Linked DNA regions of Homo sapiens: region 2 is linked to region 1. The links come from fine-mapping of genetic effects on gene expression. A gene starts in region 1. The other region holds a variant in brackets. All regions are shown on one strand. Distances are between the middles of the regions. Region 1 holds the start of ZC3H18 (zinc finger CCCH-type containing 18). Region 2 overlaps ZC3H18 (zinc finger CCCH-type containing 18).

The links.
Region 2: its variant is fine-mapped to the expression of ZC3H18 in whole blood (TOPMed, PIP above 0.99).

Annotation. Positions count from the first base shown.
Region 1 is chr16:88,565,958-88,578,154 of GRCh38, reverse strand. ZC3H18 (zinc finger CCCH-type containing 18) reads right to left here and starts at 7,752. Exons shown (of 18, transcript NM_144604.4): 1 at 7,589-7,752; 2 at 429-1,045. The coding sequence starts at 1,031. RefSeq lists enhancers at 7,162-7,211, 8,302-8,351, 8,462-8,571 and silencers at 7,482-7,551, 7,732-8,061.
Region 2 is chr16:88,595,360-88,607,556 of GRCh38, reverse strand. It overlaps ZC3H18 (zinc finger CCCH-type containing 18), which reads right to left. Exons shown (of 18, transcript NM_144604.4): 4 at 9,231-9,379; 5 at 8,845-8,937; 6 at 7,609-7,766. Among named protein-coding and RNA genes, the nearest start is that of ZC3H18, 31 kb to the right of the region's middle. RefSeq lists an enhancer at 1-406. The variant C/T (reference allele first, on the strand shown) is at 7,241.

The DNA.
Region 1 (12,197 bases):
TCCTCATTCTTTTCAGTCCAAAAACCTGACAAGAGTGGAAACCCACGTGGTTTCTGGTTGAGTGTTAACTTGAGTATCACTTGAAGACGGCAAAGACAAGGACAGACATTAACCCTTCATTCCTAGAACCTAAAAACACTGGGCGCTGGACCTTTCACTACAACCCAAACAATCCCACCAGCTGGCCGGCCGAGGGCCACGGAAACCCTGCTGGCAGCTTCTGGAGCTGCCTCTGCTCATTCTCGATTTCTGGCTCTTTCTCTCCAATCACTATGGGACTGAACCCAAAACAAGCCTCTCATTCTCCTGCACCATCCCTAGTAACAAATCACTAAGTCAGTCCCACACAGAGTCCCTCCTTTCCAGCACCAGTCTATGTCAGGCTGCTGGGCAGGATGCCCCGCGACGCTCTGCTCCATCATACTCACGTCTATTTCCCCATCATCGATTTCTCCATCATCGTCCTCTTTCTTTTTCTCCTTGGCAGCCTCCAGGGATTCCTTTTCTCCCACACTCTGAACACCAGCCTTCCCCTCCTCCCTGGGAGTGCCTTCGCCTTTCTCCTCATCATCCTCAGCCCCCGCTTTCTCAGCCTCGTCCTCCTGGACGGCGGGAGCTGGCTCCTCAGGAACCTCCTCATCGTAGTCTAGCTCATGCTCATCCAGCTCCCTGGTGACTGAGGAGGCCTCATCCCTAAGGTCGCTTGTCCGGTCTTCCTCCCCTTCGTCCCCCTCCTCCTCGCAGGGGGAGCTGGTCGGGCCCCGGCTCAGCTCATTCACCTCTGAGTCCTGGTCTTGGGATTTAGGCTCACTTGCCCGGTCCTCCTCGTCGGAGTGATTATCTTCCTCCTCCTGGCTCGGCCCCCTGGCTGCACTTTCCTCATCCTCCAGATCAGAAGCCCTCACCCCCGCCCCGTCCAAATCCTGATCGGACCCGCTGTCCCTCAGAATGTCATCGTCCGAGAGTCCCTGTGGCTGCTCTTCATCCTCTGGAGAGTGAGGATCCCGTTCAGGGCTCTCGGCCACATCCATCGGTACCCACGGTTCTGCAAAAGAGAGAATACAGATTGACAGCCTTTAGCAAAATGGAAAACAAACCTTGTCCCTACTTTCCTGGCCTGAAGCAGCAGGACTTCCATCCTGCTTGGTCCCACACGGCCCTGCCCCAAATCCCACACTCCACTCTGCAGAGAAAGACAGGCCATAACTCCACTCCACAAGGCTAGACTGCTCAGCTAAGCTGGGTGTTAAGTGCCTCCCGTTTTTGGCAATCTGGCAAAATGAGATGTGGCAGAAGGAGACGCAGCCTGGCCTAGCCCTTCCCCGCTCAAGGGCAGCCCACACGAGTTAACAGAAAGTGAGTAACGATACGGATCGCAAAGGACAGCTGTGTGAATTCTTAGAGGAGTATTTACTTTTGAAATTAAAGATAAACTGTATCATGGAACGAGGAAGCAAAACTGCAGGCCCAGATCTCACCATTTTTCTGGAGTCATCCTGAAGCAGGAACCTGGGCCAGCCTTCGGCAGTGTCCAAGTCTGGAGCCTTTTCTGTTACTGAACACACTTCTCGAAGGCCAGCCTCTGAGGGCCTCCGAGAATCCCTTGGCTGCCCTTTAGCAATGCAGGCTCAGAGCCCTGCCTGCGTGTTCACTGGCCCCTCCAGCAGGTGTCGAGAGGGCTGTGTTCACCCGCTCAGCAACTCACACTCCTAAGTTGAGAACCCCTCTTCCCATACAGGTAGCTGCTGTCGAAAAGAACTCTGGCAGGAAACTTGACACACTTAAGTACCGCGCGTATGTAAAAGACGAGGCTGGCCAGGTACGGTGGCTCGCATCTACAATCTCAGCACTTTGGGAGGTTGCAACGGGAGGATCATTTGAGCCCAGCAGTTCGAGACCAGCCTGGGCAACATGGTGAGACCCTGTCTCTGTAAAAAAAAAATACTAAAATTCAGGCCAGGCGCGGTGGCTCACACCTGTAATCCCAGCACTTTGGGAGGCCCGAGGCAGGTGGATCATGAGGTCAGGAGATCGAGACCATCCTGGCTAACACGGTGAAACCCCGTCTCTATGAAAAATACAAAAACTTAGCTGCACGTGGTGGCAGGCGCCTGTAGTCCCAGCTATTCAGGAGGCTGAGGCAGGAGAAAGGCGTGAACCCAGGAGGTAGAGCTTGCAGTGAGCTGAGATCGCGCCACCGCACTCCAGCCTGGGCGACAGAGTGAGACTCCGTCTCAAAACAAAAACAAAAACAAACAAACAAACAAAAACTAAGTCACAGAGTGTGGTGGTGCGTGCCTATATTCCCAGCTACTTGGGAGTCTGACGCAGGAGGATCGCTTAAGCCCAGGAGGTGGAGGCTGCAGTAAGCCAAGACTGCATCAATGTGCTTCAGCCTGGGCAACAGAGTGAGACCAATCTCCAAAAAAAACTCAAAAAACAAAAAAAGACGGGGTCACTTCAGACTTCATTCCTATTTTTACTAATCCAGATTAAATTATAAAGTTAATATTTTCGAGTTTCCCTCCTCAAAAACTCATAGAAAGTACACTGCTACCCATGCTTTAAAAGTGGACGGTGTTAAGACGGGTAGGAAGGTGTAGAACGGCAACACCTGCCTGGCAAACACTTGCCACACCACCACTACCAGGGCAGCTAGTCACCACCAAGTGAGTGTGGAGCAGCAGGGACAGTGCCAGGTCAGCGGTCACTTGACTGTTCAGTCTGTGAGGCTGTTAAAATAACGTATGTCACGGTCACACTGCTCGGCATCTCGGCAAGGTCTGGAAACAGATTATTCATCTCAAGATAACTACGGACGCAGCAAGTCATACACATACACATTTATATGTCTTGTATCTCAAATAACCATACACACTAAAGATAAAAATATTCATCTTTTAAATTTATACTTTTAATACAACCTGTTTAAAGATGCACAGTATCAAGAATTGGTATCAACCTACAGTTAAACATTTTTTTTTTTTGCTGTTAATGGAAATCATTAAGATTAAGTACACATTAGAGGCCGGGCACGGTGGCTCACGCCTGTAATCCCAGCACTTTGGGAGGCCGAGGCGGGTGGATCACGAGGTCAGGAGATCGAGACCATCCTGGCTAACACGGTGAAACCCCGTCTCTACTAAATATACAAAAAATTAGTCGGGTGTGGTGGCGGGTGCCTGTGTTCCCAGCTACTCGGGAGGCTGAGGCAGGAGAATGGCGTGAACCCAGGGGGCGGGGCTTGGAGTGAGCCGAGATCGCGCCATTGCACTCCAGCCTGGGCGACAGAGCGAGACTCCGTCTCAAAAAAAAAAAAAAAAGATACATTAGAACAAATTGGTCAGGTGCGGTGGTTCATGCCTGTAATCCCAGCACTTTGGGAGGCTGAGGTGGGCGGATCACTTGAGTCCAGGAGTTCTAGACCAGCTTGGGCAACATAGCAAAACCCCATCTCTACCAAAAAAAAAAAAAAAAAAAAAAAAAATTAGCTGGGTGTGGTAGGGCACCTGTCGTCCCAGCTACTTGGGAGGCTGAGATAGGAGGATCACCTGATCCTAGGAGGTTGAGGCTGCAGTTCAGCCTGGGTGACAGAGTGAGACCCTGACTCAAACAAAAAACAAAAAAGCCAAAAAAACCCAAATCTGGCCAGGCGTGGTGGCTCGCGTCTGTAATCCTAGCACTTTGGGAGGCCAAGGCAGGTGGATCATCCGAAGTCAGGAGTTCAAGACCAGCCTGGCCAACATGGTGAAACCCGGTCTCTACTAAAATACAAAAATTAGCTGGGCATGATAGCAGGTGCCTGTTATCCAAGCTACTTGGGAGGCTGAGACGAGAGAATCGCTTGAACCTGGGAGACAGTGGTTGCAGTGAGCCGAGATCACACCACTGCACTCCAGCCTAGGTGGTGGCTAAGCGAGACTCCGTCTCAAAAGAAAATTCAAATCATTTAAAATTCATCACTTTATAAAAACTAAATGGGCCAAGGGTGGTGGCTCACGCCTGTAATCCCAGCACTTTGGAAGACTGACGCGGGTGGATCACCTGAGGTCAGGAGTTCAGGACAAGCCCGGTCAAAATGGTGAAACCTTGTCTCTACTAAATATACAAAACATTAGCTGGGCATGGTGGTGGGCATCTGTAATCCCAGCTGCTCGGGAGGCTGAGGCAGGAGAATTGCTTGAACTCGGGGGGGCGGAGGTTGCAGTGAGCCAAGATTGTGTCATTGCTCTCCAGCATGGGCAAAAAGAGCAAAACTCCGTCTCAAAAAAAAAAACCTAAATGGTTAGCAATAACATAGATTTACAAACCAACCAATCCATTCCAAGTCACTTAAAAGCAGACAGTTCTGAAAATGATTCACTTTTTGGTTTTCTAAGTACACTATTCGGTTACTATCCAGAGACAGGACTACTGGGAGGAATTATTAAAAAGTCAGTCCTAAGCCAGGAGTGGTGGCATGTACCTGGAATCCCGGCTACTTGTGTGGTTGAGGTGGGAGAATCACTCGAGCCCAAGAGTTCGAGTCCAGCCTAGATAACATGGTAAGACCCTCGTCTTTTTATTAAAGGTAGTCCTAAACTGGTATACACTGCTGAAAATGGGAAAGTCAAGGAGCTGATCCCCAAACAGTATCACAGGGGCGCTTGATGCACAGAGCATTTCTGCAGCCCAAGGCAACAAAAGCAAGGATGAAAAGCACCAAGGCTGCTAAGGCCTCTACGCACTGACTGTTCAAGACTGGGAGTCTGCGTGGGGTTGTGGCAGTAAGTCACCGGTGGCAAACTGGCAATTCTCTCTCTTGCCTAGCTATCGACATTAGTAACACCCTATACTATCTTCGTACACTTTTTATTACAATGTATAAACATCTTCCTCATAGAAGGGCAGGTAGTTCACATCTCCCCAGCTGCCTAAGCGGAGCGCCTGGTGCCCAGTAGGATGCCCCAAGCTGAACCCAGACCTGAAATATGACAAATTCTGATTCTCATGTTTTATAGTTTAATGTCAACCTTGGAAACAAAGTGATCTCTTAAATAAACCAACTTTTATGCAAAACTAAATGTCTCCTCAAACTAGTTTTAAAAATCACACAATTGGCTGGGTGTGGTGGCTCATGCCTGTAATCCCAGCACTTTGGGAGGCTGAAGCGGGAGGATCACGAGGTTGGGAGTTCGAGATCACCTTGGCCAACACAGTGAAACCCCTGTCTCTACTAAAAATACAAAAATTAGCTGGGCATGGTGGCACGTGCCTGTAGTCCCAGCTACTCAGGAGGCTGAGGCAGGAGAATCACTTGAACCCAGGAGGAGGAGGTTGCAGTGAGCCGAGATCATGCCACTGCACTCCAGCCTGGGTAGCAGAGTGAGACTCCGTTTCAAAAAATAGTAATAAGGTGCTACGAAGGGAAACGTGGCCTCTTAAGTGTAGACAATGAAATGAGAAGTGTAGACAGGGGTGTCAGTAGAAGAGTCTCAACTGATACCCACGTTTGCAATTTGTGCTCAGTTTGGTCTTCTTACACTATCTATAACTGAAGATTTTCAGCACAATTTAGAACTAAATCCTTAGTCCTCTGATCCACCAGATGGGTGAACTTGCCTAAGGAATGAAATAACAAGTGCCCATCGTCCCGTCTCCGTTGCTTTCTGCATTTGGCAGATGATACTTGATAGATATTTGTTGAATACATGACAAAAAACTCGTTAATTGAGGAACTACCTGTTGCCTACCAGAAAGGAATTTAAAATAAGTGCCCAGGAGGAGGAGGTTGCGGTGAGCCGAGATCCTGCCACTGCACTCCAGCCTGGGCAACAGAGTGAGACTCCGTCTCAAAAAATAATAGTAATAATAAAGAGCAGGTGCTACCTCCCTTCCGAGCAGCCCCTCTGGGAGGATGCACAGACTCCAACGGCACTGCTGAAATGCAGAGCGTTTGGGGACCTTCTCATTGCGAATGACCTTCCAAGCCTAAAGAAGTCTTCTGGTATTCTTAGTGGTGGCAAATCTTCCTCCTCTCAAGCTAGTCACTTTGATAAAGTGCTGCAAGTCAGAGTCTCACCTGATAAGGTGAGCTACCAACCACGTAAGTAAACTTTTGGTCAAACCTGGAGGGTGACTATTGAATAAGACTGATTTTCCCATATGACTACATTTTTACTACCACAACAGGAGTTCTAAAGAGATTCTGGCAAAGAAGCACCGATGAAATACAAGCACATTTTGGGACAATTACTTTCAACAGAGCAGTACCTATTTGAATGCCTAAGTTCTGGTACATCTGGTTAAAATTCTGACTCATAACCTCATGGACTTAAAATATCTAAATGAACGTTATCAAGGTTGGTGACAGACCCCACGTGCAAAGTGACCAAGCGTGACCACTAAACTCCTTGATAAAGAGGTACTCACCTTGAGATGCTCTGTAGCTGTGACAAAATACAAATCTCTGTAAACACGATGTAGGCCATAGGTTAACTTACCTGTTTGCTTTCTGGAGTGACTCCACAAAGCTTTCTTACAATATTTCAGCATGTCCCACCTACAACGGGAGAGGAGTTTCCGGCTTTGGGACACATTTGACTGGTTCCAGGGCTGGCTGGGCTCCATACTGCCCTTAGATAGTAAAATTATCAGGAAAAGACTCTCCTCCCAAAGCTGGGAAGCGGGATTCAGCCGAGGTCAAACCTCACCCGGATAATCCCAACTACTGAACGGGAAAGGACTACTCTACAGACAACAGGCTGGAGGTGAGTCTAACAGGAGACATGATGAGCACCTTGCTACACCCCAAACGGTACTTCAGATGCCAAACACTCTCTTCTTCCATTTTCCCAAATGGGTCTGAAGAATGACCTACTCTTGCAAATGAGTTAGCGTTGTTCGAACAAAGCTCATTTAAAACGGCCACTCTACCCGGCAAACTCAGTTGTCATAAAGTATTCAGGAAAAATGTTTGGCAGGAGTAAGGCTGTTAAGTTTCAGTTCTTCCAGCATTATAGCTGCAGTTGGTCTATATAAAGGACCCAGCACCTCTGATCTCCTAATCCAAGGGGCAAGGAAGTTACATACTCCTAAGAGACCGGCGCGCGTCTTGGGGCAATCACTGCGCCCAACCTGTGCACACTTTGAAGCTGCGGAGCAAGTTCCAGGAGGTTCATAAAGAGCTCAAAGTTCTCCGAAGAGCCCAGCAGCAGCCCGGGATGACCTACTCTGGAGGTGAATCTGGGCGCCTCTCACCGCCCCTTAGCCGGCGGCACACATGTGCCACGCGAGTGGCCCGGAAGAGAAATGACAGCTTCAGGAAAATAAACTCTGCCGCGGGGCGCGGAGGCAGCGCGCGAGGAGCTCGGGCGCCCAGGGCGCCCCAGGACCGCGGGGCCGGCTTACGGACGGAACTCGGGGTGGTGCCTGTCTCAAGGTCCCCTTCCCTGGGCCCGAGGGCCACGCTTCGGCCGGTGGGTCCGCACGGCCGGAGGCGCGCCGGGCTCCCGGGCCTCCCTCCCGCGGCCGCCGCCGCCGCCTCGGCGGCCTCCTCCTCCCGCCGCCGCCGGCCCGGCCTCCCGCCGCCCTCCCGGCCCCAGCTAACCTCAGCGCTAGGGCGGAGAGGAGGCCACGGCTCCCCTGGAGTCGGAGCGGCGTGGAGAAGACGTCCCTTGGCCCTTCCGCTCTTCACAGGTTCTGGCTCCAGGCTCGACACGGGCGGAACAAACGGGCTCCACTACCCGCGGGGGCCGGCCATTGTGCGACGTCATCAGGCCGCGACGGTAGTCCTACGGCCGGCGGGCTTCCCTCCCTCGCCCCGCCCCCTCCAGCTTCCTTCCGGCCTCCGCGCGGTTCCGCCCCCGCAGCGCGCGCCCGGACCCGCGCGAGCCAGCCGAACCCCCGCTACAGCGCAGGCGCCACGGGGAGTTCGCTTCTCAGGCGGCGGGCGTGCGGATCCGCGCCTGCGCACAGAGCTCCCCGCGGCCGCCGGGTCACGTGACGGGGCTCCGGCTGGGCCGGCGGGTTCTTCATCCCCGGGGATGATCGAGTTCATCAAAGTGGAAAACTTAAGGCGGTCTTCGTCGGGCTGATACTTCCTGCTTTATTGAATGTTGATATTAAATGCTTACCTCCGGAATTATTTTTTGAGGTATCGACTTTAGATTAAAAGCCTAACAATTCTTACCTTTCCCGTGGGCTGCCTGGCTCCCCGCGCGGTTCAACGCGAGCAGCGCCAGTGAGGGGACCTGTCGCGTGTCCTGCTCAGCGCGGTGTCCCACGGGCGCGTCCACAGCCCGGGGCGTCCAGGGGCTGCAGCGGTGCGAGCTGCTCTAGAGACGGAGGGCCCGGCCGGAGACCAGGGGCCGGCGGTTTCATCCTGCGCTGACCCTTGCCAACGACGTGGCTGGTCCTGGGGATCACAGGGCTTCGCTCATCCCATCTTCCTCCATATCCCCAAGGTGGAAACAAGGGGGCGAGATGTCCACAAACTGAGGAACAGACAAAATGCTGGCTGTCCATGCAGTGGAGTGTGAGTCAGTCATCAAGAAGAGTGAAGTTCAGACCCATGCCACAACATGGGTGAACCTTGGAAACATACTAAGTAAAGCAAGCCAATCGCAAAAGGACAAAACCTGTGCGACTCCATGCTATGGACCGAGTTCTGTCCCCCTAACATTTGTATGTGAAGCCTTAATCCCCAATGTGACTGTGTTTGCAGAAAGGGCCTTTAGAGAAGTAATTAAGGTTAAATGAGATTATAAGGGTGGGGTCCTGATCTGATAGGATTAGTGTCCTTGGAAGAGGTACCACAGGCCTGGCACTGTGGCTCACACCTGTAATCCTAGCACTTTGGGAGTCCAAGGTGGGAGGACCACCTCCTCCAGGAGTTTGAGACCAGCCTGGGCAACAAAGCAAGACCCCTGTCTCTACAAAAAAATTAACAGGGCACCGTGGTGCGTGCCTGTAGTCCCAGCAACTTGTTATGGTTACGTAAGAGGAATGTGAATTCAACCCTGGTGATTTTGGGTCGTGTCAGGAGCAGCCCTGCGACACCAGTTGGCACCTTCTGCAGACTCTATGTGTCGATAAGACAAGGTCCCACCCAGCAAGTGCCCTTTTCTCAGCTGATGAACATAAGCCTGCATGGACGTTACTGTCCATGGAAAGGAGCGGCCGGCACCGGCTGTGACAGACACGTGCCTGTCTGCGATCTGAGTTTCATGAACAGTAAACTCTGTTGGTCACAGCCTCTTTGGAAAACAATGTTAGTTAAAAGAAGTGCCCTGTGACCAGCAGTGCCACCCTCGACAGGGTTCTCCAAGTGGGACCCGGGCAAGCAGCCTCAGTATCACTAGGGGTTGTTAGCAATGTGCCTTCCTGGGCTCTGCCCCAGAGTGGCCGCACCAGTGACTGGGAGTGAGGTCCCAGGGCCCTGTGGTCCATGAAGAGCTCTCAGGGGATTCTGATGCCCAGTGGTACAGGTGGGCCACCGGACTGGGGTGTCATCTGCCCGTGGGCATGAGACATGAACAAGGACATAGCAGGTCTGTTAGTAGTCATAACTAAAAGAACAAAGGAGCCGGGCACGGTGGCTCATGCCTGTAATCCCAGCACTTTGGGAGGTCGAGGCGGGCAGATCGCGAGGTCAGGAGATCGAGACCATGCTGGCTAACACAGTGAAACCCCGTCTCTACTAAAAATACAAAAAATTAGCCGGGCGTGGTGGCGGGCGCCTGTAGTCCCAGCTACTCGGGAGGCTGAGGCAGGAGAATGGCATGAACCCGGGAGGCGGAGTTTGCAGTGAGCCCAGATCATGCCACTGCACTCCAGCCTGGGCAACAGAGCGAGACTCCGTCTCAAGAAAAAAAAAGAACAAAGGAAAAAACCAGAAAACCACCCAGATGTTGATGAGCAGATGATTGTACTGTTGTAATAGTAATCTGGTACAACATTTGCAACATCGCGGTTGTTAAAAATGCTAACGCATGAACCTCCAGTGTGTATACACAGATATAAATAAACGGGTGAAGACCATCTGTGAGGTTGCATGACAAAGGCAAGTGCAGAAGCAGACAGGGTGGGCACATTTCTTTTCTTTCTTTCTTTCTTTTTTTTTTTTTTTGAGACAGAGTCTCACTCTGTCGCCCAGGCTGGAGTGCAGTAGCGCCATCTCGGCTCCCTGCCACCTCCGCCCCCTGGGTTCAAGCGATTCTCCTGCCTCAGCCTCCCGAGTAGCTGGGACTACAGGCGCCCGCCACCACGCCCGGCTAATTTTTTTGTATTTTTAGTGGAGACGGGGTTTCACCGTGTTAGCCAGGACGGTCTCGATCTTCTGACCTCGTGATCCTCCCGCCTCGGCCTCCCAAAGTGTTGGGATTACAGGCGTGAGCCACTGCGCCCGGTCCACGTTTCTATCAAATTGAAATCATGAGCGGTTTTGCTGAGGGTGTGGGGCACCCAGAGCCTGCGGCCTGTGCTCGAGTGAAAATGGTGGCCCCGCTCCAGAAGCCTGCGACGGCGCTCACGGAACCGCAGCCTTCGTGCGGCGGCACCTGGGCCGTGCTACTCCTCTGTGACTTCCCGGAAGAGATGAGCTGCTACGTCCAGCAAAAGGCACATCCAAGATCGTTCACCCCAGCATGACTCGTTACACTCCGGACTAGAAGGAACCCCAAGGTGCTTCAGTGACAGAACGATGAACCAGCTGGGGTGTAACCCCCATGCAATGGAATATCGTACAGGAACGAAAAGGACACGCTACCCCTACAAGCAACATGGATCTCAGAGGCAGGATGTTGCGCAGAAGAAACCAGACACAAATGCTTCGGCTCGTGTTGCTGCGACTCATTACAGGCAGCCGAATCTGCGGTGATGGGGGCCCCAGGAGCAGTGACCAGGAGGCAGTGCCACGGAGCCTGCGGTGGGGGCTGATAGTCAGTAGCGTGACCTGGTTGGGATGTTCTGTTTTTAAGCTGGAGTCCATCATGTTTGTTTATTTGTTCATTTCGTAGAGGTGGGGGTCTTGTAGAGGTGGGGGTCTCACTCTGTTGCCCAGGCTGGTCTCAAACTCTGGGCCTCAAGCGATCCTCCCACCTTGGCCTTCCAAAGTGCTGGGATTACAGGTGTGAGCCACTGCATAAGGCCGTTATTGTTATTAGTGCTTAAAAATATTTAGTAAACATTTTATTTAGCCTAAAAACCATTCAGAGAGCAGAGGCTGGATGGAACACGGCGTGCCAGGCGGTGAGAGCACAGACCCTCCTCTTCCAGAGCAGGAAGTGGGTAAATGACTTTTAAGCCTCATTTCTGGGGTGGCAAAACTCTTCTGTATGAAGAAGTACAAATATGTAATGTCCCATAATGGCAGCTATGGGACGTTACGTATTTGCCAAAACCCACATAACGCACAACGCCAAGAGTGAACTGTAATGTAAACTGTGGACTTAAGTCAATGATCGTGTCCCGATACGGGCTGGTTGGTTGTGATGCAGGGCAGGTGAGGCCCAAAGTGGAGCTTAGCCTGCCAGCGTTCTTGGCTTTGCCCAAGAAAGAATTCAAGGACAAGCCGGAGGTAGAAGAGAACAACTTGATTGAAGAGGCAGTGTGGCAGGTCCGTGACGGCTCCTGCAGAGCTGGGCTGCCCAGAAGGCAGAGAGCAGCAGCTCAACGCACTTCTGCAGACCCATTATACCCACTTTTAATTACATGCAGATTAAGGGGCAGTTTATGCAGAAATTTCTGGGGAAGGAGTAGTCACTTCTGGGTCACTGAGTCATTGCCATGGAAAGGGGTGGGAGTGTTGCCATGGCGATGGTAAACTGACACAGAACACTGGTGGGTGTGTCTTTTTTTTCTTTTCCTGAGACGGAGTCTCCCTCTGTCACCCACATTAGAGTGCAGTGGCCTGATCTCGGCTCACCACAACCTCTGTCTCCTGGGCTCAAGCAATTCTTCTGCTTCAATCTCCTGAGTAGCTGGGGCTGCAGGCATGGGACATCATGCCTGGCTAATTTTTGTATTTTTAGTAGAGACAGGGTTTCACCATGTTGGCCAGGCTGGTCTCAAACTCCTGACCTCTGGTGATCTGCCTGCCTGGGCTCCCAAAGTGCTGGGATTACAGGCATGAGCCACTGCGCCCAGTCTGGTGTGTCTTATAAAAAGCTGCTTCTGCCCTGCCCTGTTTTAGCCAGTCCTGTTTGGTCCCAGCTCCA
Region 2 (12,197 bases), 29 kb before region 1:
TTTTGAAACCTGACACAAAGCGTGCATGAATAATGGGGAGACGCCTCTTGCACTGGGAGAGCGCAGCTCGGAATCGCCCACAAGTCAGTCCTTCCTACACTGACTGATAAATTTAACACAATCCCAGCAAAAACACCAATGAGCTTCTTTAAGGAGCCAGACAAGCTGACACCCAAGTTCACATGAAAAATCGCACCCCAAGAACAGCCAAGAAAACCCTGGAAATGAAAAGACACGCCAGACACGCCCTCTGAGACATTAAACATCCTAAAAAGCCTGTATAATTAAGCCAGTGCCATCGCAGCACATGAAAACCGGCGGCCAGAAGGAGGAGGCAGGAGGTCCAGAGGCAGACCCAGGCACGCCCAGAGAGGTGGCATCTCAGGGACAGAGGGGATTCTTCATTGAACAGGGAGGGGACGACTGTCCAGCTGCTGGGAAGGTCAGGCTCTCTTCCCCACTGCGCACAGGGTTGGGGGGGGCCTGCTCTAAACTCCTGGCGGGGCCCACAACTCTGCATCTCCTTTCCTGTGGAGCAGAGGAAACAAAGTGTACACTAGCAATAGGAGGTCCCTGGACGCCCCTCCAGGGTATGTCTCAGCCACAAGCCAACCCTCTGCTTCGGGTAGACTGGGTGGGAACCTGAGGCATCATGGCTTGAGGTGGCTCCAGCGATGGGTGGCTACGAACACCCTCGAGGCCTCCTCAACTCTCCACATGGCCTAGAACTGGCTCTCCCAAAGGACACAGCTTCAGTCCGTTCCCATCAGTCGGACACCGTTCAATCTAATGTGCACACTACTCAAATCACACTGAATTATAACACTCAGGAAACATTTGTAGAGACCTGTGGCAATATGACATCAGGCTACATAAAAACGAAGAGGAAGCCTGGACAGCACGCGAGACACCGTCTCTACAAAAAACACATCAGCAGCCAGGTCTGGTGGTGCATGGCTGTGGCCCCCAACTACTCGGTGGGCTGAGGCTGATTGCGTAAGCCCAATAGGGTAGAAAAGCCTTTCCCAAAATGTGTGAGGCGTGTGTTCTCTGACAAGAGGACTGTGCCGGCAAATTTGTTTTTGGGAAACTGTACTTAAGCAAAATGAAAAGGCCTCTTTCCTGCAGGCTTTCTGGAAGTCGTGGATGAGCGGATAGGAATGAGGCACACAGCATTTCCTCAGCGTGGCTGCCTCGGAACCATCTGCTCCGCAGCATGCGTTCTAGAGAACGTGTCAACACAACACGCCACCAGGAACTGCAACCATGCCAACAACGGACTCCTCAGCACCATCCTGAAAAATTCTGAAACACTCTTGAAATGAATTTGGAAGGTATTTAATTCAATTTAAAAATAAATGCTACTGGGCAGTATCATGGTATGCACAAACTCTTCCCCAACTGTTTTAGGGAACCCAAAATGTTAATGGGCCTTTTGAGAAAAGGGTTCTGTGGTGAAGCAAGGTTGGGCAAAGCTGGCTCGCAGCAACTGGGAGGCTCGCACCTCGTTCTGCAGTCACCACTTAACCAGCCAACACCAACAGTGTCCTGTGCACACACGTGGAATCTGCACTCCAGAGGCCCCGCGTCCCCAGAGGTCTGGGCAGCGTCAGACTCAGCACTGGCACGTGGAGTGGACCTACTCCTCGCTGGAGAGGAGAACCCGAGGTCCTGGCTAAGGGGAACCATTGGACATGCCCATCAGGGGCAGGTGGTTTCTGCCCACAGCCTTGCCCAGGGAGAGGCATGGCAGGTGAAAAGTCGAGCAATTAGAGAACGTGTAAGACAGAAGTTTGGAGCTTCGAGATCACTTTGTTTAACCATTTCATTTCAGTGACAAGGAAACTGGATCTCAAAAAGTACTAGGAAAAAGTTCTAAAATGTCTAACACTACTCACTTTTAATCTAAGGGTTATGCAATATTACACAATGAAATGCAACTTGCATTTGCACAATTCAGGTTGAAATCGTGCTGACCTCAACCCAGGTGGAGGGAGGCTGTGCTCTGCAAAGGGTGGGAGTCAGATGCTCACGTGTCCCTGCTTGCTGCAGAGACCCAAGGTGAAAAGGAGGGTCCCAGGCAGCTCACAAAGGGAGCAGCGACGCAGCCCCCTGCTGCCTCTTGCCCTCACCCCAACCCAGCATGGTCGACCTGGTGCCCACCTGCCTGTTGCCCACGTTCCTGTTGCAACGCTGGCCACTGAAAGTGCAGGCAGGGGAGGAGGTCCCCAAAGGCATGCAGAGGCCACAGGCAATGCCTGGGCACCCATACATCCATCTGCCCTGAGTCTGTGGGACTGTGGGCTTACCCATGTGGAGCAGGCCCTGTCTTACTCTCCAGGTAGCCCAACCCTCCCTCCCTGCTCACTCAGGGGGCTTCCCCACAGGGCACCAGCAAATCCCAGGTAAAAGCCACTTGTGCTCTCTCAGTTAAGCATCTGGGACAAAGGAGGTGCTGGACCAGCATCTGGTAGACCTGTTACCTGAGGAAAGGGAGTGTGCTTTTTGAAAATTACTGTTCTGTTTCCTCTGTATCCCAGCCTGACATCCTACTCCAAAGAACAGCAGCCTGCACCTCCGCCTCTAATACACCGGCACTGCACTACTCTCTGTGCTGGGGGCGTATGGGGAGTTGGCAGGGGCCCAGTCCATGGCCCTGGCCATGGCCTGACAGCCTGACTCTGATTTAATCAGAAACTCTGTTCACGGTGGGGCTACTACTGATGACCGCATTTCTCACAGGTGACGTCCTGTGCGCACTAGAGGCCCTTGTGTCTTTTGGGTCACATGTCCCTATTAGACTTGTAGAATATTCTGGGCACAGCATCCCCAGGAGCCCTATGCAGAGATGACATTTCTTTTTTTTTCTTTGAGATGGAGTCTTGCTCTGTCGCCCAGGCTGGAGTGCAGTGGCGCCATCTCGGCTCACTGTAAGCTCCGCCTCCTGGGTTCACGCCATTCTCCTGCCTCAGCCTCCCGAGTAGCTGGGACTACAGGTGTCCGCCACCACGCCTGGCTAATTTTTTGTATTTTTAGTAGAGATGGGGTTTCACCATGTTAGCCAGAACGGTCTCAATCTCCTGACCCTGTGATCTGCCTGCCTCAGCCTCCCAGAGTGCTGGGATTACAGGCGTGAGCCACTGTGCCCGGCCGTCATTTCATTTCTTAATGTCTTACATATGTGAGAACTTTTTTTTTTTTTTTTGGAGAAAGAGTCTCACTCAGTCACCCAGGCTGGAGTGCAGTGGCACGATCTCACTTGCTGCAACCTCCACCTCTCGGGCTCAAGAGATTCTCCCACCTCAGACTCTTGAGTAGCTGGGACTACAGGTGCGTGCCACCATGCCCAACTAATTTTTGTATATTTTGTAGAGATGGGGTTTTGCCATGTTGTCCAGACTGGTCTTCAACTCCCGAGCTCAACTGATCTGCCAACCTTGACCTCCCAAAACACTAGGATTATAGACATTACTAGCTACTGTATCCAGCCAATATGTGAGGTTTTATAAGTCAGATGGTACCTGAACAAAGTGCTTGAGGTGGTAGAAACGGAATATTTAAAGCTGCGAATCAGAGTGCGTCTGTCTAGCAAAGTATTATTATTATTATTATTTTAAGAAATGGGGCTGGGCACGGTGGCTCACGCCTGTAATCCCAGCACTTTGGGAGGCCAAGGCCGGTGGATCACAAGGTCAGGAGATCGAGACCAACCTGGCTAACATGGTGAAACCCCATCTCTACTAAAAATACAAAAAAAAAAAAAAAAATTAGCCGGGCATGGTGGCAGGCACCTGTAGTCCCAGCTACTTGGTAAGCTGAGGCAGAAGAATGGCGTGAACCCAGGAGGCAGAGCTTGCAGTGAGCCCAGATTGCGCCACTGCACTCCACGCTGGGCGACAGAGCCAGACTCCGTCTCAAAAAAAAAAAAAAAAAGAGACGGAGTCTCGCTCTGTTGCCCAGGCTGGAGTGCAGGGGCATGATCTTGGCTCACTGGCAACCTCCGCCTCCCAGGTTCGAGCAATTCTCCTGCCTCAGCCTCCCAAGTAGCTGGGATTACAGGTGCATGCTGCCACGCCCTGCTAATTTCTTCTGTATTTTAGTAGAGATGGGGTTTCACCGTGTTGCCCAGCCTGGTCTCAAACTCTTGAGCTCAGGCAATCCGTCCGCTTTGGCCTCCCAAAGTGCTGGGATTACAGGCGTGAGCCACCGTGCCCGGCCACAAAGTATTATGTTTACTAAGTGATCCTGCTAGGTCAGTTTTTAATTCCAAAAGAGATATAAAGAAAAAACAGGCCAGGTGCGGTGGCTCACGCCTGTCATCCCAGCACTTTGGGAGGCCGAGGCAGGCAGATCACGAGGTCAAGAGATTGAGGCCATTCCTGGCTAACATGGTGAAACCCTGTCTCTACTAAAAAATACAAAAAATTGGCTGAGCGTGGTGGCGGGCGCCTGTAGTCCCAGCTACTCGGGAGGCTGAGGCAGGAGAATGGCGTGAACCCAGGAGGCGGAGCTTACAGTGAGCCAAGATGGCACCACTACACTCCAGCCTGGGTGACAGAGCGAGACTCCGTCTCAAAAAAAAAAAAAAGAAGGAACAACAATTTTCTTGTCCTTTATGTCCTCAAGACTTCTCGAAAAGTCCTCATATTCCACTGGTTCTACAATGAAGTGCCTAGAGCTCCATCCTGTAGTAAGCAAAGCCTGCCTGCATGAAGGTGCTTCTATGTGACAATTATTTGCAAAACTCAACATCAGGTGGCTAACGTCTATATTCCCAGCAACTTAGGAGGCTCAGGCGCGAGGATTGCTTGAGTCCAGGAGTTGGAGACCAGCCTGAGCAACATAGCAAGACCTCATCTCAAAAAACCAACAGAAAACTCTCGACATTAGGAAATAAAATAACATGGTATCTTCAGAGAATTTGTGTCCCTGGAATTACTTACAATCAATGGTTCTCAAACTTTAATATGCATCAGAATTACCTGGAGGGCTTGTTAAAAACAAACCACTGGCCTGGGCTCTCCCTGGAGTTTCAGACTCAGTCTTCCTGGGGTCGAGCTAAGAATCTGACCTCTCACATGCTGCTGGGGGCAGATGTGGCTGAGGTTAAGGCACCACACCAGGAGGTCACAGCTATCAATCCAGGTTGCACTCTCCTCACCTGTGAGGCAGGGACATGGCCCTGACCTCGGCCTGCTGTGACCCAAAACAGGTCAGGAGCACTGGATGCGAAGCCTGTCATGCAGCAGGATTGCAACACATAAGTGCTGCTGGCTTGGCCTCTTCTGTGCCATTAAGGCCCTGGAGCCTGACCGCCAACTGGGCTGCCAGCCACCCTCCTGCACACCCTACAAGCTGCGACCTGCTTTGCCAGCTGTTCCAGGTGAGGCCCTGCCTGCAGCGGGCACAGGTAGGACCGAGAAGGCTGGGTGACAAGAGGACCCACTCCTGCCAACAGCACGCACCAGGACATCTGCACTTGCAGTGCAGCTCCTTCCTTCCCTCCGGGTCTCAGCAGCCCAGCTGTACTGGCTCCCTCTACTCACTGTTTTCCTCTGTAGCAACCTACCTGGTGGACCCACCCTTCCCTTAGATGCTCTTTGTGACAATCATAGGGGGGTCTCCACCCTCCTGGCAGAACCCTGACAGTTCTTTCCACTGTGTCTATCAGAAACAGCCAGGGCACCTCGCCACTGTGACACATGCACCCTGACCCTGTTCCCAGAGGTCCTGACTCACCAGGTCTCGGGGGAGGCATGGCACAAAAGGCCTCAGGTTAACTGTAACATACACAGAGGCTACTCTATAAAAACAAACAAAATACAAACATACAGAAATACCTGGCTTTCAGACACCAGTGAAAACCTTTCAGCCCTGACTGCCGAGACTTTAACATTTGGGGGTCCTGCAGTGTAGATACCGGCTCCTGGGAGAGAAGCTAGGGAGCCAGGAGCCAGCTTCTGTCACCTGGTGCCAGGATGGGAGACACCTGTTTCTGTAACCAACACTGATAGGTAAAACACACACAGAGGGCACTCCAAAAAACCTCAGAGACCTGCCGAACCACTTCCAAGCAGGCAGTTTTCCGGTCCCTGCTCCAGCCAGGGAAACTGGAAATAGAGTGTCAAGGATCACGCCCAGGTTCTAAAATCCATCCTTCCCCACACATATTTATAGAGACCTCTGTGCACACGAGCTCTGGGGAAGGAAAGACGATATCCACATCTAACAAAAAAACACAAAGGCCTCCAGGGCTTCAGGAGACACCCCTGGTGATCCTGCAGAGTTCTGACTCAAATGCTCCTTTCTGTGATCTGACATTCCACACAAAACTTAATTAGAAAATGTACATGTTAACCAAGTCTTTAAATACCTATCCCTTTAACCTCTAAGCTCTCACCTGCTGGGGCAGGTGTGGGCCACTGGGGCTTCCTCCCCCAACTTCCGCAGGCGGAAAGCCCAGGGTAGCCTGCTCGCGGCAAGAAGGCCTTGAGAAGGGCCTTGCAGGGCCAAGTCGACAGGACCAAATCCTGGAGTGCAAGCCCTGCACGCCTTCCTTTTTTGAGCACCGTTTATTGTCACTCCAGATAGAAATCATAGTGATTATGATTCCCTAATAGCAACCAGAAATGTACAGGGCTGCTAAAGCCTCAGCATGATGGAGTGCCAATTCAGATCTGCCCGAATTATAATCCAGTTCCCTGCCCTGAACCTCACCGTGCCATCCACAGGCAGAGGAAAACAGCACTTTATATGCCATGCAATCCCCCAAGATCTGACTTCCACCCTTCGACCCAGGCACTTCTTCTGTTAAGACAGGATTTTTAAAGACCAGGCATAAAGGGGCTGGGTGCAGTGGTTCACGCCTGTAGTCCCAGCACTCTGGGAGGCAGGCGTGGGTGGATCACTTGAGGTCAGGAGTTCGAGACCATCCTGGCCAACATGGTGAAATCCATCTCTACTAAAAACACAAAACTGAGTTGGGTGTGGTAGCAGACACCTGTAGTTCCAGCTACTCAGGAGGCTGAAGCAGGAGAATCACTTCAACCCAGGGAGGCGGAGGTTGCAGTGAGCCAAGATTGCGCAACTGCACTCCAGCTTGGGCGACAGAGCAAGACTCTGCCTCGGGAAAAAAAACCAAAAAACAAAAACCAGCCATCAATGCCCTGGAGGAGAAGCAGTGAAGGCAGAACAGCCCTGACAGCGAAGAGGCCGCAGCTGTTGTGTTCCTGGCTTGTGG[C/T]AACCTCCACACGTTTCCTGGCTCCTGGGTAATGTGGGCAGGGGTGAGGAGCCAGAAACACAGACTTGTGGGGCTCTAGAGGCCTCAAGGACAGCAGCGAAAACTCTCAGAGCTCAGGAACCACAACGGTGTGAGTGCTGCCAGTCAAGGCCCATGGCACAGAGCCCTAACGCTTCCTTCCTAGAAGCAAAAAACTGAGATGAGCTCTGAGAACCGTGCCTGAATGCTCTCAGGAACGTCACTGAGACTCCAGTGAGTGGGGCTGGGTCTCAGCCGAGCGCACCCTGGGGCCCTGCACATGGCTGCTCTCTCCGGAGCGTGGCCGCATGCAGGAAGGAAACGGAGGGGCAGGCAGGGCCATTCCTTACACTGTGTCTCTGACATCTCTCGGGATCCGAGAATTCCAATCTCGAAAAACTTCATTTTCTTTGTCAAATTCCCGTTCGTCTTCGCCAATGGTCACCGTAAACCTTTTCTCTTCAAAATCAGGCTCCTGTTCTTTTCGAATAGTTGCTTTTTTTAAAACCTACCATTGTAAGAAGAAAGAAGTCAACATGGAACAGAATACCGGGCGTCGCTGTTAGGAAACACAAAGGGAGCCGTCCCACCCGACCGCAGCAGCCCTGCAGGAGCAGGAGCTGCACGCTGCAAGTGCTCAAGGGGTGAGGGGCGGACACAGCACAGTTGTCCTTCTGGGGAGGGCAGTCTGTGCCCGTCTCTGCACAAACAGCTGCCCCCGGCCTCCGTGTGCCCACATGAGGTGTTCATCACTTCCTTCAACTACCCTTGGAACTAGATCCAGGGTTCAGTCACTCAGTGACAAGCAGCAGGTGGAGTGGCTGGAGTCTCAGAGGGAAGGAAGTGACATGCCGAGGGAGTGAGAAGGAACATCTTGTCCGTCATTTCCCAGCAGGGAGGCTGACCAGGAAAATGAGGAAGTGGGGCTGGGTGCCAGCAGAGTGGTCCCCAGAGCTGAAGCTCACACACTGGGGCCAACGTGGGCCTAGAGGGAGGAAGTGTGCAGTGATAGGACCAGAAAGCTCCAAGTTTTCTCCAGGAAGAGCAGACACTGAGTCTCAGGAGTGTGGGGTGCAGATCCTGGGGGTGCGGCTCGGGCAGCCTCGCCAGGCTTTCTGTGAGTGGCTGGAGACTGCACCCTGTGCTCCTGGGCAGTGCCAGCTGGGGTGTGGCCCAGTGCTGATCCAGCCCCATGAAGACAGTGGGTATGCCCTGGACTGAACTCCCTGGCCTACTGGGCTGCTGCCTGAGACAGTTAGATATAACTCTCCATCCTTCCGGGCCTGGTGGCGCATGCCTGTAATCCCAGCTACTTGGGAGGCCGAGCAGGAGAATCACATGAACCTGGGAGGCGGAGGCTGCAGTGAGTCGAGTTTGGGCCATTGCACTCCAGCCTGGGCAACAAGAGTGAAACTCTGTCTCCAAAAAAATAAATAAATAAAAAATAAAGAAAGACACCACAGAAACAGACGCCTAACTTCAGAGATTTCTGGGGCTCTCTCTGGACCGAGGAAATCCCAGTTTTGTCAAGAACCACTCCTGTAATAGCATCTTTCTTGTCGGGATTTCTGCTGAATTGTGTTTACCTCCTTTGCATGCCGGAGTCCTCGTTCCCAGGCACTCTCTGTTGGGGGCTCTGGAGGGGGTGGAGGCAAAATTTCATCAACTACCGGCCCACCCTATTGAAAAACGAGAAGGGAGAAGGTGAGAAAGTAAAACTTTCAAGTGTACAGAGAAACCAGACAGTAAAAACATCAACTACAACACAAGCCGGCCGTGTGTGGCCGCTCTCCTTCCACCAAGCCTCACTCCGTCCTCGGAAAGCCGAGGCCTGCTTCCACTCGGGACGACAGAAGCAGCCGAAAGGGGGCACTGAGCCTGTGCTAAGGCACAGTGACTTGTCTTAAGCTTGAGATTCAGACACAGCTCAGTTGGCTGATGTGCTAACAATGAAAGAAGAGGCATCACGCACCCAAGGGTTGGCGGGCATCAGCGGGTGAGGTCCGAGAGGCGGGGCACCATTAGGCGGGAAGGGGTCGGCTTTGGTGATTAGGGAGTAGTTCCCCTTGTCGTTCACTCCAGGGTGTATAAACCTACAATTCATTCCCCAGGTACAGTTCCCTATGGAAACAAAAGTGAGATCAGAAAGGGTCCACAAGAGCCTAATTGCACAAGGGCAGCTGCTGGGGTGGGGGGTGGGAGGGGGCAGAGGCCATGTTTACCCAGGCCTGATGGCGAGCCACACAGTAGTGGGAACTGAACGGGGAGGTGGGCGGGATGAGCCTGGAGAGGCTGAGCCAGACAGCTGCACCTGCCCAGGCACGGCAGTTCCCCAGAGGCTGCCAGGCACCTCGGTCAGAGTGACCACAAAGTCACTTTGTGGAGAGTTCACGCGTATCAACTGTCTGAGTATTAATTTTCCCCTTAAACCAGAAAAGCCCCAGAGCTTTGCTTCCAGCCCTGGCCCAGGCTCATCTAGGTACAACTGGATGTTAATTGTATTTGTGCCGAAACAGACATCAATGAGAAGCATTAACAATGATCAGAAGCCTGCAGGTGTGCTCAGGGTCCCCTTGGCCACCTCTGTACGTCTGCATTTCTCTCACAGAGAAAACTCTCACAGGGCATTTCAAGATATTTCTGGAACTGAAACGGGCTTTTACACTTTGCTCATAAATAACAATCACAAACCTTCATCTTCAACAGAATATCCGGGTTAGTAAAGGAGACCTCGACTTTCAAGTGTAGAATATAAGACATCTAAGTGTCTAACTCAATTACTGAGTGAATCACTTTTTTAAAATGTACTTTTTTGGGAATAGATAATGTGTACACATTGTTTAAAACCAAATATGGCATATAGTATCTAAGCGGTTTAAAAATTTTTTTCAATGGGTTAACATGCAGTTAGATTTTAAATCATTTAAAATTTTAACCTTAAACATCAGGAACACTTAAGCCTGCATTAAAACCAACTCAATACAACATAATAACAATATCGATCCAAATTAAACACGAAAGAAAACTTAAAACTGCTTCTCTGGAAATGCAAAAATGACAAGTAATTTTTAAAATTTCTAAAAGCATTTCAGAGATCACACATAAGTCAAACGAAGTTGGGAGGCCAGGCGTGGTGGCTCACGACGTCAAGAGATCAAGACCATCCTGGCTAACATGGTGAAACCCCGTCTCTACTAAAAAATACAAAAAATTAGCCGGACGTGGTGGCAGGTGCCTGTAGTCCCAGCTACTTGGGAGGCTGAAGCAGGAGAATGGCGTGAACCCAGGAGGTGGAGCTTGCAGTGAGCCGAGATCGTGCCACTGCACTCCAGCCTGGGCAACAGAGCGAGTCTCTCTCAAAAACAACAACAAAAAACAAAAGAGGTTGGGAAATGTTATTCTATAGGGGGTTCAAAAATCCAGAGCCTCAGAGAGATTTAAAGAAAAACTGACTATGCAGTCATCCATCTGAGACTCAACACACTACAGAGCTCTTCATGGTTTGCCTCTGAAAATACTCATGCAGTATTCAAAATCACGTGTGTAACTAAACAAGTAACAAAAGCTCATTGTAAAAAATGTCCAAGTACAGAAAAGTGCTGACAATAGAAACCACAGCTTTTCTGTACTCCTTTTCCTTTTTTTTTCAGATGGAGTCTCACTCTGACTGAGTGAGACAGTCCCAGGCTGGAGTGCAATGATGCAATCTCGGCTCACTGCAACCTCCACCTCCTGGGTGTCAGTGATTCTCCTGCCTCAGCCTCCTGAGTAGCTGGGATTACAGGCGGGTACCACCATGCCAGGCTAATTTTTGTATTTTTAGTAGAGACGGGACTTCACCAACTTGGTCAGGCTGGTCTCGAACTCCTGACCTTGTGATCTGCCAGCCTCGGCCTCCCAAAGTGCTGGGATTACAGGCGTGAACCACCACACTCGGCCTCTGTACTTCTTTTTCATCTAAAATATGTATCTGGGTGGTGGCTAAATGTTATCGTTCTTTTCTGTATTTATGAAAATTTTTAGGACATCACCTACGAACCTACTATCAAAAAAGATCCTTTCTCACTGATATTGGCATGGGGAGAAAAGAGGAACAAGGCAGAAGAGAACAAACCAGTGAGCGCCAAAGAGCAAGCTGAGAAGGCGAGCGTGGGGCTGCCACTAGAGACCAGACACTAGTGGGTGACAGTGTTCAGCTCTCGGGAGCCACCTGCCCGGGGGTGCTGAGCGCTGTCCTGCCCCTGGCCAGAGTAAAGGGGAAGATGGCTCTGGAAAGCAGCACAGTTGGTCTGCACGTCTAGCTGGGACACACTTCCAGCAGACGTCAGGCAGAAAGAACACCATTGTCCCATCTATCTTTTTAAAATGTGAACTTTTATCTGTGTAGGAACACACCCAACTGTCGGGAATGTGGGAAGGGGCTTTAGATTTTATTTTCTTGCCTTCTGCCAGCCCATATTACTTTCTTTCCTTTTTTTAATTTTTTTTTTTTTGAGATGGAGTCTCGCTCTGTTGCCCAGGCTGGAGTGCAGTGGAGCGACCTAGGCTCATTGCAACCTCTGCCTCACAGTTCAAGCAACTCTCCTGCCTCAGCCTCCCGAGTAGCTGGGATTACAGGTGTGCACCACCAAGCCCGGCTAATTTTTGTATTTTTAGTAGTGACAGGGTTTCGCCATGTTAGCCAGGCTGGTCTCAAACTCCTGAAGTCAGGTGATCCGCCCACCTCGGCCTCCCAAAGAGCTGGGATTACAGGTGTCAGCTACCGTCCCCAGCCTTACTTTCATAATTTAAAAAGCAATTTGTTAAAAAAAAAAAAAAAAAAAAGAAAGAAAGAAATTATCCAGAAAATAGAAGCAACAATAAAGATCTTCTGGTTTACAAATGGGACTTCAAACCCAAAATTTATGTGGATTGTGATTCTAACAGTATAAAGATAGTT